Linked DNA regions of Homo sapiens. The protein of the gene in region 1 interacts with the protein of each later gene in a pairwise test. Each region holds a gene or a part of one and is shown in the gene's direction. Other genes may lie near its edges. The genes, in order: NAMPT, DISC1, UBE2L6, IFITM3 and AKT2.

The links.
Region 2: the proteins of NAMPT (region 1) and DISC1 interact in a two-hybrid assay, tested with the Homo sapiens proteins (one large-scale study listed by IntAct).
Region 3: the proteins of NAMPT (region 1) and UBE2L6 interact in a two-hybrid assay, tested with the Homo sapiens proteins (one study listed by IntAct).
Region 4: the proteins of NAMPT (region 1) and IFITM3 interact in binary tests that used the Homo sapiens proteins (3 or more experiments, as listed by UniProt).
Region 5: the proteins of NAMPT (region 1) and AKT2 interact in a two-hybrid assay, tested with the Homo sapiens proteins (one large-scale study listed by BioGRID and IntAct).

What each region holds. Positions count from the first base shown.
Region 1 is NC_000007.14:106,247,795-106,250,909, reverse strand, and holds the end of NAMPT (nicotinamide phosphoribosyltransferase precursor), read left to right. Parts: 3' UTR 1-2,612; downstream 2,613-3,115.
Region 2 is NC_000001.11:231,696,268-231,699,789, forward strand, and holds part of DISC1 (disrupted in schizophrenia 1 protein), read left to right. Parts: intron 1-3,522. UniProt on the Homo sapiens protein: Involved in the regulation of multiple aspects of embryonic and adult neurogenesis. Required for neural progenitor proliferation in the ventrical/subventrical zone during embryonic brain development and in the adult dentate gyrus of the hippocampus.
Region 3 is NC_000011.10:57,551,140-57,554,417, reverse strand, and holds the end of UBE2L6 (ubiquitin/ISG15-conjugating enzyme E2 L6), read left to right. Parts: intron 1-1,908; coding exon 1,909-2,060; 3' UTR 2,061-2,756; downstream 2,757-3,278. UniProt on the Homo sapiens protein: Catalyzes the covalent attachment of ubiquitin or ISG15 to other proteins. Functions in the E6/E6-AP-induced ubiquitination of p53/TP53. Promotes ubiquitination and subsequent proteasomal degradation of FLT3.
Region 4 is NC_000011.10:319,154-322,010, reverse strand, and holds IFITM3 (interferon-induced transmembrane protein 3), read left to right. Parts: upstream 1-1,150; 5' UTR 1,151-1,197; coding exon 1,198-1,446; intron 1,447-2,020; coding exon 2,021-2,173; 3' UTR 2,174-2,335; downstream 2,336-2,857.
Region 5 is NC_000019.10:40,240,345-40,243,866, reverse strand, and holds part of AKT2 (RAC-beta serine/threonine-protein kinase), read left to right. Parts: intron 1-1,179; coding exon 1,180-1,333; intron 1,334-1,797; coding exon 1,798-1,929; intron 1,930-3,522. UniProt on the Homo sapiens protein: Serine/threonine kinase closely related to AKT1 and AKT3. All 3 enzymes, AKT1, AKT2 and AKT3, are collectively known as AKT kinase.

The sequences.
Region 1 (3,115 bases):
CATTTAACCATGTAAAAGATGAGTGCTAAAGTAAGCTTTTTAGGGCCCTTTGCCAATAGGTAGTCATTCAATCTGGTATTGATCTTTTCACAAATAACAGAACTGAGAAACTTTTATATATAACTGATGATCACATAAAACAGATTTGCATAAAATTACCATGATTGCTTTATGTTTATATTTAACTTGTATTTTTGTACAAACAAGATTGTGTAAGATATATTTGAAGTTTCAGTGATTTAACAGTCTTTCCAACTTTTCATGATTTTTATGAGCACAGACTTTCAAGAAAATACTTGAAAATAAATTACATTGCCTTTTGTCCATTAATCAGCAAATAAAACATGGCCTTAACAAAGTTGTTTGTGTTATTGTACAATTTGAAAATTATGTCGGGACATACCCTATAGAATTACTAACCTTACTGCCCCTTGTAGAATATGTATTAATCATTCTACATTAAAGAAAATAATGGTTCTTACTGGAATGTCTAGGCACTGTACAGTTATTATATATCTTGGTTGTTGTATTGTACCAGTGAAATGCCAAATTTGAAAGGCCTGTACTGCAATTTTATATGTCAGAGATTGCCTGTGGCTCTAATATGCACCTCAAGATTTTAAGGAGATAATGTTTTTAGAGAGAATTTCTGCTTCCACTATAGAATATATACATAAATGTAAAATACTTACAAAAGTGGAAGTAGTGTATTTTAAAGTAATTACACTTCTGAATTTATTTTTCATATTCTATAGTTGGTATGACTTAAATGAATTACTGGAGTGGGTAGTGAGTGTACTTAAATGTTTCAATTCTGTTATATTTTTTATTAAGTTTTTAAAAAATTAAATTGGATATTAAATTGTATGGACATCATTTATTAATTTTAAACTGAATGCCCTCAATAAGTAATACTGAAGCACATTCTTAAATGAAGATAAATTATCTCCAATGAAAAGCATGACATGTGTTTCAATAGAAGAATCTTAAGTTGGCTAAATTCAAAGTGCTTGACATCAAAATGTTCTAGAGTGATTAGCTACTAGATTCTGAATCATACATCACATCTGACTAGAGACCAGTTTCTTTCGAATGATTCTTTTATGTATGTAGATCTGTTCTTCTGAGGCAGCGGTTGGCCAACTATAGCCCAAAGGCCAAATTTGGACTTCTTTTTATAAATGCAGATTGTCTATGGCTGCTTTCCCACTACTCCAGCCTAAGGTAAACAGCTGCAATAGAAGCCAAATGAGAATCGCAAAGCCCAAAATGTTTATTAACCTGCCCTTTACACAAAATTACACAAAAAGTTTCCTGATCTCTGTTCTAAGAAAAGGAGTGTGCCTTGCATTTAAAAGGAAATGTTGGTTTCTAGGGAAGGGAGGAGGCTAAATAATTGATACGGAATTTTCCTCTTTTGTCTTCTTTTTTCTCACTTAAGAATCCGATACTGGAAGACTGATTTAGAAAAGTTTTTAACATGACATTAAATGTGAAATTTTAAAAATTGAAAAGCCATAAATCATCTGTTTTAAATAGTTACATGAGAAAATGATCACTAGAATAACCTAATTAGAAGTGTTATCTTCATTAAATGTTTTTTGTAAGTGGTATTAGAAAGAATATGTTTTTCAGATGGTTCTTTAAACATGTAGTGAGAACAATAAGCATTATTCACTTTTAGTAAGTCTTCTGTAATCCATGATATAAAATAATTTTAAAATGATTTTTTAATGTATTTGAGTAAAGATGAGTAGTATTAAGAAAAACACACATTTCTTCACAAAATGTGCTAAGGGGCGTGTAAAGAATCAAAAGAAACTATTACCAATAATAGTTTTGATAATCACCCATAATTTTGTGTTTAAACATTGAAATTATAGTACAGACAGTATTCTCTGTGTTCTGTGAATTTCAGCAGCTTCAGAATAGAGTTTAATTTAGAAATTTGCAGTGAAAAAAGCTATCTCTTTGTTCACAACCATAAATCAGGAGATGGAGATTAATTCTATTGGCTCTTAGTCACTTGGAACTGATTAATTCTGACTTTCTGTCACTAAGCACTTGGTATTTGGCCATCTCCATTCTGAGCACCAAACGGTTAACACGAATGTCCACTAGAACTCTGCTGTGTGTCACCCTTAAATCAGTCTAAATCTTCCAGACAAAAGCAAATGGCATTTATGGATTTAAGTCATTAGATTTTCAACTGACATTAATTAATCCCTCTTGATTGATTATATCATCAAGTATTTATATCTTAAATAGGAGGTAGGATTTCTGTGTTAAGACTCTTATTTGTACCCTATAATTAAAGTAAAATGTTTTTTATGAGTATCCCTTGTTTTCCCTTCTTAAATTGTTATCAAACAATTTTTATAATGAAATCTATCTTGGAAAATTAGAAAGAAAAATGGCAAGGTATTTATTGTTCTGTTTGCCATAATTTAGAACTCACACTTAAGTATTTTGTAGTTTTACATTCCTTTTTAACCCATTCAGTGGAGAATGTCAGCTTTTCTCCCAAGTTGTATGTTAAGTCTATTCTAATATGTACTCAACATCAAGTTATAAACATGTAATAAACATGGAAATAAAGTTTAGCTCTATTAGTGAAGTGTTAAATTTGTGTGCTTCAAGTAATGCCATTTTCAGGCCTACCTGTTTTAAGTATTCCTCCAGTTCAAAGAATTAGAAGATGAGAGAAGGGCAAGTGTCAGAGTTGACTCCTTTTCTGCTTTGTGCAACTGTATAGATGACAGTGCCTTTTACTAAGGAAGAACACTGGAGGGACATCAGATTTGAGAGGAAAGAGCACGATTCCCGTGTTAAGGCTTGAGACGCCTTTGACATATCTAAATGTAGGTATTAAGTAGGCAGTTGATGATACAGGTTTGTGGACAGAAGGGCCTCAAGGTATGACTGATGTATACCTTGGAAGGTATACATCTTTGGAAGCACACAGTAAAGGATACTCTTCTAGGGATAGTATAGAGCAGGAGTTGGCAAACCCCACGCCATGAGCCAAATCCAGCCCACCATCTGTTTTTGTAAATAACTGTATTGGAACATAGCCACACCCATTTATTTAGTTACTGCCTTTGGCTGTTTTCTT
Region 2 (3,522 bases), on another chromosome or scaffold:
TCCTGCGGTGTTTCTCTTCTCCAGTTAATTAAACTAAATGTGATCATATGTGCAAAGTGCTTCAGACAGGGCCTGGCATCTAGCAAGTACCCAGAAATTAACCATTGTCATCATTAGAGAAATAGCTCCAATTTAGAGAGTTTGAGTCAAAAGCAAATGAAGCTCTCCCTTCTGTCCATAGCTCAAATTAAATTCCTATCTTATCTCAAATGGTAGAATCTGGACACACTTTTTCTTTAGTGTAAGTATTGTTGTCTATGGCAGTCCCACAGCTGGGCAGGGAAAAACATGACACTCTCTTCAATTACACTCATGTACTGCATAATGACATTTTGGCCAATGACGGATCACATATATGATGTGACAGTGGTCCTGTGAGATTATCGTACTGTGTTTTTGTTGTACCCTTTCTATGTTCAGATATGTTTAGATACAACAATACCTTACCATTGTGTGACACTTGTCTGCAGTATTCAGTACAGTCACATGCTGCACAGGTTTGTAGCCAAGGAGCAATAGACTATTCCATCTAGCCTAGGTGTGTAATGGGCTACACCATCCAGATTTGTGTAAGCACACTCTACGATGTTCACACAATGATGAAGTCACCTAATAATGCATTTCTCAGAATGCATCCCTGTCATTAAGTAACGCTAGGCTGTACTTGAGTATCTGTTGTGTGACAGCGGAATTAACAGAGTAGTGGGAATGACAGAAATAACACAGTCCAGGGCATAGGACTTACAGGAAGGCAGAGTTTGCCTCAATAGGAGGAAGAACCTCTTGACAGTGGGAATTGTCTGTGATGAGGTGGGCTGGTCAGGGACTTGTTTTCCCATGGTGCTTACACAGAGGCCCCAGACTGCTCACTGGGGTTGCGGCTGAGGCCTTCGGGACAGGGCAGAAGGTCGGTGAAGGATCTCCAAAAAGATCCTTTGAAAGAGTAGGATTTCTAGTGTTTGGGGGCCTTATTGATATTATATTTTAATTCCTTAACCTCCTCTCGCTTCTACTTAAGTAAAAATGAGAATCTCAGGAATTTAAGTTTCAGCTTCTTCTAAAAGATGGTTGATCCTCAGTGTTTGTGGATTCTATATGTGTGAATTCGTCTACTTGCTAAAATTTGTTGTTAACTCCAAAATCAGTACTCACAGCACTTTTATGGTCATTTTTCATTTTTATTTTATTTTTTAAGAGACGGGGTCTCTGTCTTCCAGGCTGGGGTGCAGTGGTGTGATCATAACTCACTGCAACCTTGAACTCCTGGGCTCAAGCGATTCTCTTGCCTCAGCCTCCCTAGTGGCTGGGACTACAGGCGCATGCCACCATGCCTGGCTAATTTTTTTTTTTTTTTTTTTTTGGGTAGAGATGAGGGTCTTGCCACGTTGCCCAAACTGGTCTTGAACTCTTGGCCTCAAATGATCCTCCTGCCTCAGCCTCCAAGGTACTGGGATTACAGGCATGAGCCACCATGCCTGGTGGTAATTTTGAACCTGCACAGAGTGGCAAAATATTTGGGTCACCTGATGTACACGCTTTCTACTTAGGTCAAACAAGTTCAGACCAGATGACATTCTACCTTCTCTCTCATACTACAAACTAGTATCCTTTTTGTGGTCTATTTAATGCCATCTTTTTTTACATTTTTGTGCTCTTTATTGGTGAGTTAACCATTGCAAAAGCTCCCTAAGCATAGTGCTAATGTCATCTAGTGCTCCTAAGCATGAGAAGGCTGTGATGGGCCTGATGGAGAAGATACAGGTGCTCCAGAAACTTTATTCAGGCATGAGTTAGAGTGCTGTTGGCCAGAGTACAATGCTTATGGATCAATAATACATATTAAATAAGATGTTTTTAAACAGAAACACACATAGAACAAGGTCATGTGTTGACCGATGGAGGAAGGTGTTGTGACCAGGGGTTCACAGGAACCTACCCTGTATTTCTCTTAGGAGCAATGCTTCATTATTCCCTAATTCAGTATTCACAGAAACTTTATAGAACATAACTACAGTACTGTGAATAAGGAGAATCGACTGTGAATATTTTATGCTGTTTAGAAATCGCTGCTTAGCGAGATTTCCAGGGGTTGCATGGGACTGAGAAGATGGTAATAAAGGTAGTTGGTGACCAGGCATGCAGAGGAGGGGAAGTGGAGTGGGCCCTGCAAGGTAGGCTCCACCTAAGGCCATGGAAACTGGTGAAAAATGAAGGACTCTGCCTGTAGAGTATTATAGGACGTTCCACAGGCAGGGTTGTGGCACAGTGCAAGACATGGCCACTGGGGCTGTGCCTCCAGCAAAGACGGGTATTCAGACATATCTCAGGGCAGTCCATTCAGGGCCTTATAGAGATCACTGGACGAGGTGGGCATCGTGGGGTGGGCTTTGGCTGTAAATGAATTTTTTTCCTGACCTTGTTTCCTGCATTTCTTCAGCTTCTGTTCTAATAAATGTTTAATGATACCATCATTTGGGTGTGGCGATGGTAATGCTATAGCTTTATGTGGCCCTCAAACCATTCACACAGCCTTTCTTCTGTCCCTAATATATAGGACTAAGTTACTGGTAAACTTTGCAGTTGTAATATAGAACAATTCAAAGACAAAGGGGTTAATATGATTATTCATTCATTCTTTCATTCATTCAGAAAGCATTTATCAATGACAACGAGTACAATGCCTTATCCTAGGCTTTGGAGATTGTATTAGGACAGGCTAGTAACAGGCACTACGTTAGAGGCTCAACACAACAAAATTGTGTTTTTTGCGTATGCTTCATGTTCCACAGAGATTTTTGGGGGGCAAGAACCCAGCCTGCACCATCTGAACATATGATCCCCTTAGTCACAGACTTGAGGAAGAGAATGTTAGGGAGTCCTACAAGAGCGATCAAATGCTTCAGCGTAGAGGTAACCCCATCACTGCCACTCATACCCTGTTCAGCAGAACAAGGAGAGAGGCACTTGTACTCTTTCCATGTGCCCAAAGCAGTGGAAAATCAAGTCAGTGTAAGTACTAGCATCCTATACATGGATGCAAAATAGTTCTTGCCCCCCAGATGCTCAAGGTTGAATGATGTGCACAGATAAAACCAAACAAAGGAAAATGATGGCTATAACCTGGTGCAATAAGTACTCCATTCTTCCAGTGGGTCAGAAAAAAAAACCCAAAAAACAAAAAACAAAACAAACCTTGGCATCATCCTGGTGCATTTTCCTCAGACCCCACCTGTGATGTATTAGCAAATCCTGTTGGCTCTATATTTAACCAGCGGTCTTCTGAATATAACCGGAATCAGATCACATCTCACCATCTTCACCATTGCCACCATCCTCACTATCATCCAAGCTCCTGTCATCTCCTTCCTGAATGTTCCCATAGCCTCTTACCTGGCCTCCCTTCTTCTGCTCTTACTAACAGCAGCCAGAGTGAAACTGTTTAAAACATAAGTCAGATCATGTGCTCCTCTGCCCCAAACTCTCCAGTGGCGCCCCATGAACTTCAGAGTAAAATCAGAACTT
Region 3 (3,278 bases), on another chromosome or scaffold:
GGAGGAGGGACTGATACTGGGTAGAGATTACTGGAGAGGGGGTTCACAGCTTATTCTGAGCTTGAAAAGCCCCAAAGAGAGGAGATAAAAATTGTGAGTCTTGGCTGAACTTACTATGAGATAGAAGGGATGCTTCCTGGACAGACTGACCTCCTCCTGCCTCTCTTCTTATACCTGTGCAGTTGTGACAGAGGAACGTTGCTGCGGTTCATGGGAGAGGCAGCTTGGCTGCACAGGGAAGGGCTCGGGAAAAGAAAGCCCGCTGTTCCCTCTGTGGACTTTGGGCAAGTTTTCGTTCCTTTCTGGGACTCGGTGTCCTAAATGACAGTGGAGGGAACTGGCCTCATAATGATAATACCTGTCACTTGACTGAGCACTTTCGGCACTGTGCTAAAAACATCACCTGCCGACTTCATTTTTATTTCCCCAACAAGCCCGTGAGGTAGTGTTGTTTAGTAGACCCGGACATCTGAGGCATGTGAGAGGTGAAGTGGTTGCCTAAGGTCATACAGATGACAAACGGCAGCACTTGGCTGACTCGCAAGCCACATGTGGCTGTTGCAACTGAAGAACTCAATTCTTTTTCTTTTTTAAGACAGAGTCTCGCTCTGTCGCCTAGGCTGGAGTGCAGTGGCGCGATCTTGGCTCACTGCAACCTCCACCTCCCAGGTTCAAGCGATTCTCCGGCCTCAGCTTCTTGAATAGCTGGAATTACAGGCGTATGACACCACACCCAGCTATTTTGTATTTTTAATAGAGAGGGGTTTTGCCATGTTAGCCAGGCTGGTCTCGAACTCCTGACCTCAGGCGATCCGCCTGCCTCCGCCTCCCAGAGTGCTGGGATTACAGGTGTGAGTCACTGCGCCTGGCCAGAACTCAATTCTTAATTGTACTTAATTTTAATCCTTTTTGTTTTTTCTACTGAGACACGGTCTGTCTCTATTGCCCAGGCAGTTAGTTCAGTGGCGCAATCTTGGCTCACTGCAACCTCCACCTCCTGGGCTCAAGCCATCCTCCCACCTCAGCCTCCCGAGTAACTGGGACTACAGGAGCATGCCACTATACCTGGCTAATTTTTGCATGCTTTGTAGATACCAGGTTTTGCCATATTGCCCAGGCTGGTCTCAAACTCGTGAGTTCAAGCCATCCACCCATCTTGGCCTCCCAAAGTGGTGGGATTACAGGCGTGAGCCACCGTGCCCAGCCTGATTTTAATTCATTTAAATTTAGATGCCTGCATGTGGCTAATGGCTACCATATTGAACAACACAGCTCTAGAGCCTGTGGCTGAATCAGTGTGCAATCCTCCACCTGGACCAGCTCAGGAGTTTTTAACTCAGGAAATGAAAGTCCTTAGGTTGGTGGGAGTGGGAGCAGGGAGAGGAGTGGTCCTTGGATGAGCTTCAGGGGGTCTGGGAACTGTCTGTTTTGCATGTGGATGTGCACATCTGTCTCGGGAGATGGGCTGCTGCCTTCACTAGGTTCCCAAAGGCATCTGTGAAAGATGAAGAGCCAGGGGGCAGTGGTGGTTTTCAGTCTTTAGCCTTAGACCTCTTTTGCCCAAGGAAAAGTTTATTTGGACTACCAATATAATGGAGGAAAACAGAGCAGTTTTTGTTGAAATGGGGATAAGACCCAGAAACCTCACTTATCTCAGTGGCCCCTGTGATGAGGAGCTTCTCTGAAGCCATGGAATGTAGTTGTTTGAAAACCACTGATGTAATCAGTCAAGGCCTTGGGTGTCACCAGCCAAGAATGAGCGGGGCGTTTGATCTGGTCGTAGAGTAATCCTAAGCGATGTAACCTTTCCCCCAAGGAGTGAGTGTGGAGTGTCAGGACATTGGGAACGGGCAGCCATGACTCCCTTCCCTCTGCCCTGATATCCTGATCTGGCCTGTCTCTCCCCAGTCCTGGAGGCCCTCAATGTGCTGGTGAATAGACCGAATATCAGGGAGCCCCTGCGGATGGACCTCGCTGACCTGCTGACACAGAATCCGGAGCTGTTCAGAAAGAATGCCGAAGAGTTCACCCTCCGATTCGGAGTGGACCGGCCCTCCTAACTCATGTTCTGACCCTCTGTGCACTGGATCCTCGGCATAGCGGACGGACACACCTCATGGACTGAGGCCAGAGCCCCCTGTGGCCCATTCCCCATTCATTTTTCCCTTCTTAGGTTGTTAGTCATTAGTTTGTGTGTGTGTGTGGTGGAGGGAAGGGAGCTATGAGTGTGTGTGTTGTGTATGGACTCACTCCCAGGTTCACCTGGCCACAGGTGCACCCTTCCCACACCCTTTACATTCCCCAGAGCCAAGGGAGTTTAAGTTTGCAGTTACAGGCCAGTTCTCCAGCTCTCCATCTTAGAGAGACAGGTCACCTTGCAGGCCTGCTTGCAGGAAATGAATCCAGCAGCCAACTCGAATCCCCCTAGGGCTCAGGCACTGAGGGCCTGGGGACAGTGGAGCATATGGGTGGGAGACAGATGGAGGGTACCCTATTTACAACTGAGTCAGCCAAGCCACTGATGGGAATATACAGATTTAGGTGCTAAACCATTTATTTTCCACGGATGAGTCACAATCTGAAGAATCAAACTTCCATCCTGAAAATCTATATGTTTCAAAACCACTTGCCATCCTGTTAGATTGCCAGTTCCTGGGACCAGGCCTCAGACTGTGAAGTATATATCCTCCAGCATTCAGTCCAGGGGGAGCCACGGAAACCATGTTCTTGCTTAAGCCATTAAAGTCAGAGATGAATTCTGGAGTGCAGCTGAGTCTTTGATGAGGGGATGGGGTGGTTTCATCAGGACCATAGAGGACTAGGGATTTAAGCATAAATTTCTGACCTTGCTTCCCTTGAATGTTCCCTAAACATCATAAGGAATGTTGGCCATGGAAAAATAGGCCATCCTTGGACAGAGGAGCTTTCAGAAGGTCCACAGGGGTGACGTCCCCATTTTATTTTATTTATTTATTTATTTATTTATTTATTTATTTATTTAAGACAGAATCTCACTCCGTCGCCCAGGCTAGAGTGCAGCAGTGCAATCTCGGCTCACTGCAACCTCCGCCTCCTGAGTTCAAGCGATTCTCCTGCCTCAGTCTCTTGAGTAACTGGGATTACAGATGCCCGCCACCACGCCTGGCTAATTTTTGTATTTTTAGTAAAGATGGGGTTTCACCACATTGGCCAGGCTGGTCTCGAACTCCTGACCTCAGGTGATCCACCCGCCTCAGCCTCCCAAAGTGCTGGGATTATAGGTGTGAGCCACCATGCCC
Region 4 (2,857 bases), on another chromosome or scaffold:
GTAATGGGATAATCCAGCTGCCTGGGCACCACACTGAAGGTAATGGGATAATCCGGCTGCCTGGGCACCACACTGAAGGTAATGGGATAATCCGGCTGCCTGGGCACCACAGTGAGGGTTATGGGATAATCCAGCTGCCTGGGCACCATAGTGAAGGTAATGGGATAATCCAGCTGCCTGGGCACCACAGTGAGGGTTATGGGATAATCCAGCTGCCTGGGCACCACACTGAAGGTAATGGGATAATCCGGCTGCCTGGGCACCACACTGAAGGTAATGGGATAATCCGGCTGCCTGGGCACCACAGTGAGGGTTATGGGATAATCCAGCTGCCTGGGCACCATAGTGAAGGTAATGGGATAATCCGGCTGCCTGGGCACCACAGTGAGGGTTATGGGATAATCCAGCTGCCTGGGCACCATAGTGAAGGTAATGGGATAATCCAGCTGCCTGGGCACCATAGTGAAGGTAATGGGATAATCCAGCTGCCTGGGCACCATAGTGAAGGTAATGGGATAATCCAGCTGCCTGGGCACCATAGTGAAGGTAATGGGATAATCCAGCTGCCTGGGCACCATAGTGAAGGTAATGGGATAATCCAGCTGCCTGGGCACCATAGTGAAGGTAATGGGATAATCCAGCTGCCTGGGCACCACAGTGAGGGTTATGGGAGACGGGGTTTCACCGTGTCAGCCAGGATGGTCTCGATCTCCTGACCTCATGATCCTCCCACCTCAGCCTCCCAAAGTGCTGGGATTACAGGCGTGAGCCGCGGCGCCCGGCAGAGGTGAGGGCTTTGGGGGAACGGTTGTGGGGCCTGGAGTGTGGAGGCGTCAGCGCAGGCCTGGCAGGAGCCCTGAACCGGGACAGTGGGGTCCTGCAGCTGCTGGCCTGGGGTGTGGAGACCCCCAACACAGGGGAAGTCTCCAGGACCCCACACCACTAACAAGATGAGCCTTGTGCTCCCTTGGGCTCTAGAGAGGAAGCCCCTCTTAGCCCTCAGCCCCTCTTTCCTCCCTCTCCTAAAGTAATTTGATCCTCAGGAATTTGTTCCGCCCTCATCTGGCCCCGGCCAAATCCCGATTTGACAAATGCCAGGAAAAGGAAACTGTTGAGAAACCGAAACTACTGGGGAAAGGGAGGGCTCACTGAGAACCATCCCAGTAACCCGACCGCCGCTGGTCTTCGCTGGACACCATGAATCACACTGTCCAAACCTTCTTCTCTCCTGTCAACAGTGGCCAGCCCCCCAACTATGAGATGCTCAAGGAGGAGCACGAGGTGGCTGTGCTGGGGGCGCCCCACAACCCTGCTCCCCCGACGTCCACCGTGATCCACATCCGCAGCGAGACCTCCGTGCCCGACCATGTCGTCTGGTCCCTGTTCAACACCCTCTTCATGAACCCCTGCTGCCTGGGCTTCATAGCATTCGCCTACTCCGTGAAGGTGCGTATGGCCCCAGGGAATGCTCAGAGGGTGCCGCTGAGCCTGGAGCTCCACCTGCCCACATGCTGCCTGGGGTGGGGACTTGTGTGTCCCTGTGACTGTGAGTTTGTGTGCACCTCTGTCCCGTGTGTGCCCACGTCAGTGGCTTTGTCTGTGTGATCTGTGTGTGTGTGTGGCTTGGGGAATCTGCCCAGTGCAGGTTTAGGAGGAGGCTCCAGGAGGCTGGCTGGCTGGCTCAGAGTCTGTCCCCGGCTATCCACTAGCCCAGAGCAGTTCTCCCTATAGCCCAGTAAGAAATTACACCTTCACCTTCCAGACTGGCACCCAGGCTCTCCCAGAAAGTGAGAAGGGAACTCACAGGTGACTTCACCCCATGGTGGGGAGAACAGCCTGTGCTGAGGTCAAGGCAGAAGGAGGATGAGCCCCGAGGCTCCTGGAGAGTCTGAGCCCGGGTGAGGAAGGGGAGGAGGTGGTCCCTGATCTCAGGGCGGGGAGAGCCAATGAGGAGACGGAGCCATAGCACGCGGCTCTCAGCTGGGGGATCCTGGTCCCCTCACCATCTCCTCTCCCCCAGTCTAGGGACAGGAAGATGGTTGGCGACGTGACCGGGGCCCAGGCCTATGCCTCCACCGCCAAGTGCCTGAACATCTGGGCCCTGATTCTGGGCATCCTCATGACCATTCTGCTCATCGTCATCCCAGTGCTGATCTTCCAGGCCTATGGATAGATCAGGAGGCATCACTGAGGCCAGGAGCTCTGCCCATGACCTGTATCCCACGTACTCCAACTTCCATTCCTCGCCCTGCCCCCGGAGCCGAGTCCTGTATCAGCCCTTTATCCTCACACGCTTTTCTACAATGGCATTCAATAAAGTGCACGTGTTTCTGGTGCTGCTGCGACTTCACCTGGGGAGGGGTCTGGCTGAGGGTTCGGAGCGTGGTTCTGAGACTGAGCAGGTTGGTCAGCCCCTGCACTGCCCCTTCCGGCCTCTGTGCATCTCTTGGGGACCGGGCAAGTGCTCAGGCCTTCTGGTTTCGGGCCTCCTGCCGTGAGCAGCAGCTGGATCCAGGACCCTGGGAGGAGTTCCTGTGTCCTGCAGGTCTCAGCTCCTACTCAACGTGGGCTCTTTCCGGGAACGTCAGTGCTGAGTCCGGGACACCCTGGGCCCAAGGCCACGCTCGCGGCCTGTCGGCAATCCAGGCTGTCGGCTCAGGACAGAGGGAAGGGTTAAGCCCCCAGCAGGGCCAGGGAGGGGCAAGGTGGCACCGGCTCCCCAGCTGCTCCCAGGCCCTGCTCTGTGGTGCTGGGGACCTGGCTTTAGTTCCTCGGGGTGGAGGGGGCACCGCGCTGCCTGCCTCCGAGCTGTCTGGAGCAGCCAGTCCTGCAGATGTGGGCAGCTCAGGGCCCGTGG
Region 5 (3,522 bases), on another chromosome or scaffold:
TTTACTATGTTGGCCAGGCTGGTCTCGAACTCCTGACCTCAAGTGATCCTCCACCTTGGCCTCCCAAAGTGCTGGGATTACAGGCGTGAGCCATCGCACCTGGCCTGTTTTTATTTTTTATTTTTGTTTTTTAAAAACTTTTTAAGAGATGGGTCTTGCTTTGTTACCTAGGCTGGTCTTGAACGCTTCGGCTCAAGCACTTGGTCCACCTTGGCCTCCCAAAATGCTGGGATTACAGGTGTGAGCCACAGTGCTTAGCCTCTAGTTAACTGTTCTTAAACCAGGCTCCCTTCTGCTGGGACCTACTTCTTGTCCACCAGCTTCTCTCCTCTACATCCCTGGGCTGCCAGGACCTCTGTCCCTGCCATGCAGACTCCCTGCTCCCAGTGGACTGTCCCCTCCAGGGAGTCCTGCGGGCCAGCTCTTGCCTTGCAGTGTCTTCAGCTCCTTTGGCTAATGAATGCTGCTTCTTACTCTTGGTTTAACTTTACAAAACATTGGTAACTTATAAACTTGAGCTTGTCATTTGTTCCGAAGAATTCACAGGAGCACTCTCTCTCCCTCATTCAAGGCTCAGGGTGGTGGCTCATTTTCAAGGGGCTGTGAAAAGAGAGGGTCACTCCTTTTTGATCATTTCCCTGCTGCCTGGCTTCAAATGGCCCTCAGGCCAGGTCACTTTAGGGAAATTGGTGATCGCTCTTGGTATTCCACTTTTTTTTTTTTTTTGAGACGGAGTCTCGCACTGTCACCAGGCTGGAGTGCAGTGGTGCGATCTCTGCTCACTGCACCCTCCGCCTCCCGGGTTCAAGCAATTCTCCTGCCTCAGCCTCCTGAGTAGCTGGGATTAGGCGAATGCCACCCCTGACTAATTTTTGTATTTTTAGTAGAGACGGGGTTTCACCATGTTGGCCAGGCTGGTCTCGAACTCCTGACCTTGTGATCCATCCGCCTCAGCCTCCCAAAGTGCTGGGATTATAGGCATGAGCCACTGCGCCTGGCGTGGAATTTCACTCAGGTCCCTTCAGCTCTCTCTGGTTCTGACAGATCTTGCCCAAATTCCCATGGTTATGTGGTCATTTGCTTGCCTGTTGCTGGGGGTGGCTGGGAGGTGGCACTCAGCTGTTCGACTCTGAGGCCCAGGACTCCTGGCTGCTGGGACTCACGTGTGTCCCTGCACAGGGAGGAGTGGATGCGGGCCATCCAGATGGTCGCCAACAGCCTCAAGCAGCGGGCCCCAGGCGAGGACCCCATGGACTACAAGTGTGGCTCCCCCAGTGACTCCTCCACGACTGAGGAGATGGAAGTGGCGGTCAGCAAGGCACGGGCTAAAGTGGTAAGTGCTGGGAGCAGGGGTGGGGCTGCCAGCCTGCGGTGCCCCCACCCCCAGTGCTGGCCTGCTCTCCTTGGTTTCCATAACACAGTTCAGGGGGCTCAGCTGAGAGACAAGGCTGCCCTGCAGGGTGGGGTGATTTCAGGTGGCAGGTGCCCTAGGGTGTGCTCCATGCCCGTAGGGGAGGGAGCAACCTTGGGTGGACCCACTGCAGGTTCGTCCTGGGAGTTGGTGAAGACCTGGCTACCCCCACGTCAGAGCCCAGCCCTCCCAAGGCCCTGTGCCTGCAGAGCCTGGTCTGAAGGCCGCTTCAGAACACACAGTTGCTGCCCAGAGCCTCCCTTCCTGCTCCAGCCTAAGCCGTTTGGCAACAGTGTCTTTTGGTTTTCCTCTTTCTTTTGTTAAAATTTCCTCCCACGGGCCATGAGCCAGGCGCTGACTGCCCCCACTCTCCCTGTCCCTGGCAGACCATGAATGACTTCGACTATCTCAAACTCCTTGGCAAGGGAACCTTTGGCAAAGTCATCCTGGTGCGGGAGAAGGCCACTGGCCGCTACTACGCCATGAAGATCCTGCGGAAGGAAGTCATCATTGCCAAGGTGCGTGCCCCGGGAATTGCGCTCGCGAGCCTCTGTGGGGGCTGCGGTCTGGAGCCTGACCCTGAGGCCTGGACGCTTACCCGCGCTTTCTGCTGCTGTGGGCTTATTTCCCCCACAAATTCCCCCTAGTCAGAAAAGGGGGAGCCTGAGGCCCAGAGAGGAGCAGCAGGCCTTGCTGCTGAGTCCCCACCTCCACCCTATGTTAGGGGCTGGGGGTGCCTGTGGAGAGAGAGAGCCTCGGGGCCCCACCCAGCAGGTACTGTCAAGGGAGGCTGGGGCCTGTTGGGGAGGACGTCGCTGTTGGGGAGTCCCGGGCTTTGCTCAGGGTATCCCAGGTGGAGGCCGGGCCAGGAGTGGAATTCTACTTTTTCCCTTATTTGAATTTTTTGTAGTGGAAGATTCCAAAGACATTCAAAAATTTAAAAAGAAAATAAATATTACGGACCCCCATGTAGCCATTGTCCAGTTTAACCAGTTATCAGCGTTTAGCCAGCCTTGTTTCCTTAGCTCTGCCTGTCCCTCTTGTTCTGGAATACTTTAAGGCCTGTCCTAGACAACACGTCACTTCACTCATCCATACTTGAACATGTGTCCTGACAGATGAAGACTGTAAAGAATATAATCATGTGGTGCTGCCATCAGAGCCAACCAAATTAGCTGTTCATTCCTGATGTGACGATTGGGCCTAAGGCAGCCTTCCTCAGCCTCAGCACTGTTAACGTTTTGGGACAGATGATTCTGCGCTGTCGGGGCAGCCCTGTGCATTCTAGGGTTTCAGCAGCACCCCTGGCTTCTACCCACTGAAGCCAATACTAGCTCCCCAAGTTGTGACAATCAAAAATGACTTTTGGGTTGGGCGCCACAGCTCACGCCTGTAATTCCAGCACTTTAGAAGGCTGAGGTGGGAGGATCGCTTGAGCCCAGGAGTTCGAGACCAGCCTGGGCAACAAAGCAAGACCCTGTCTCTGTAAAAATAAAAATAAATTAGCTGGGCATAGTGGCGTGCACCTGTAGTCCCAGCTGCTCAGGAGGCTGAAGTGGGAGGATCAGTGGAGCCTCAGAGGTTGAGGCTGTAGTGACCCATGTTCACACCACTGCACTCCAGCCTGGGCGACAGAGCCAGACCCCCAGCTAAAAAAAAAAAGGGAAAAAAAAAAAAAAGACTTCAGACATTCTCAGGTGTCCCCTGGGGATAAACTTGCCCCAGAGAGAGCCTGTGTTCACGTTGCTGCAGGTGGCTCCAGATTTTTGGAACCACTCCTGGTGGTTCTGCTGTACAGTCAGGTACCAAATTAGAACCTGAATTAGAGTCACCCAAAGGGCTTGTGAGACAGTGCTGGGCCCACCCCGAGTTTCTGACTCAGTGGGCCTGGGGGTAGGTCCCAGGAATTTGCATTGCTGCCAGTTCCCAGGCGGTGCTGAGGTGCTGTGTGGGGACCACACCAAGAAGCACTGTTTTTCCTTCTTTGGGCAAGAATGCTTTCTAGGTGGGACTTCCCACAGCCTGTGGTGGCACCTCGGGGCTCTCGTGATGTCTGTTTGTCTCCCTTGCAGGGACGTCACAGGTGTCTTGTCCCTAGCAGCCTGGTCCTT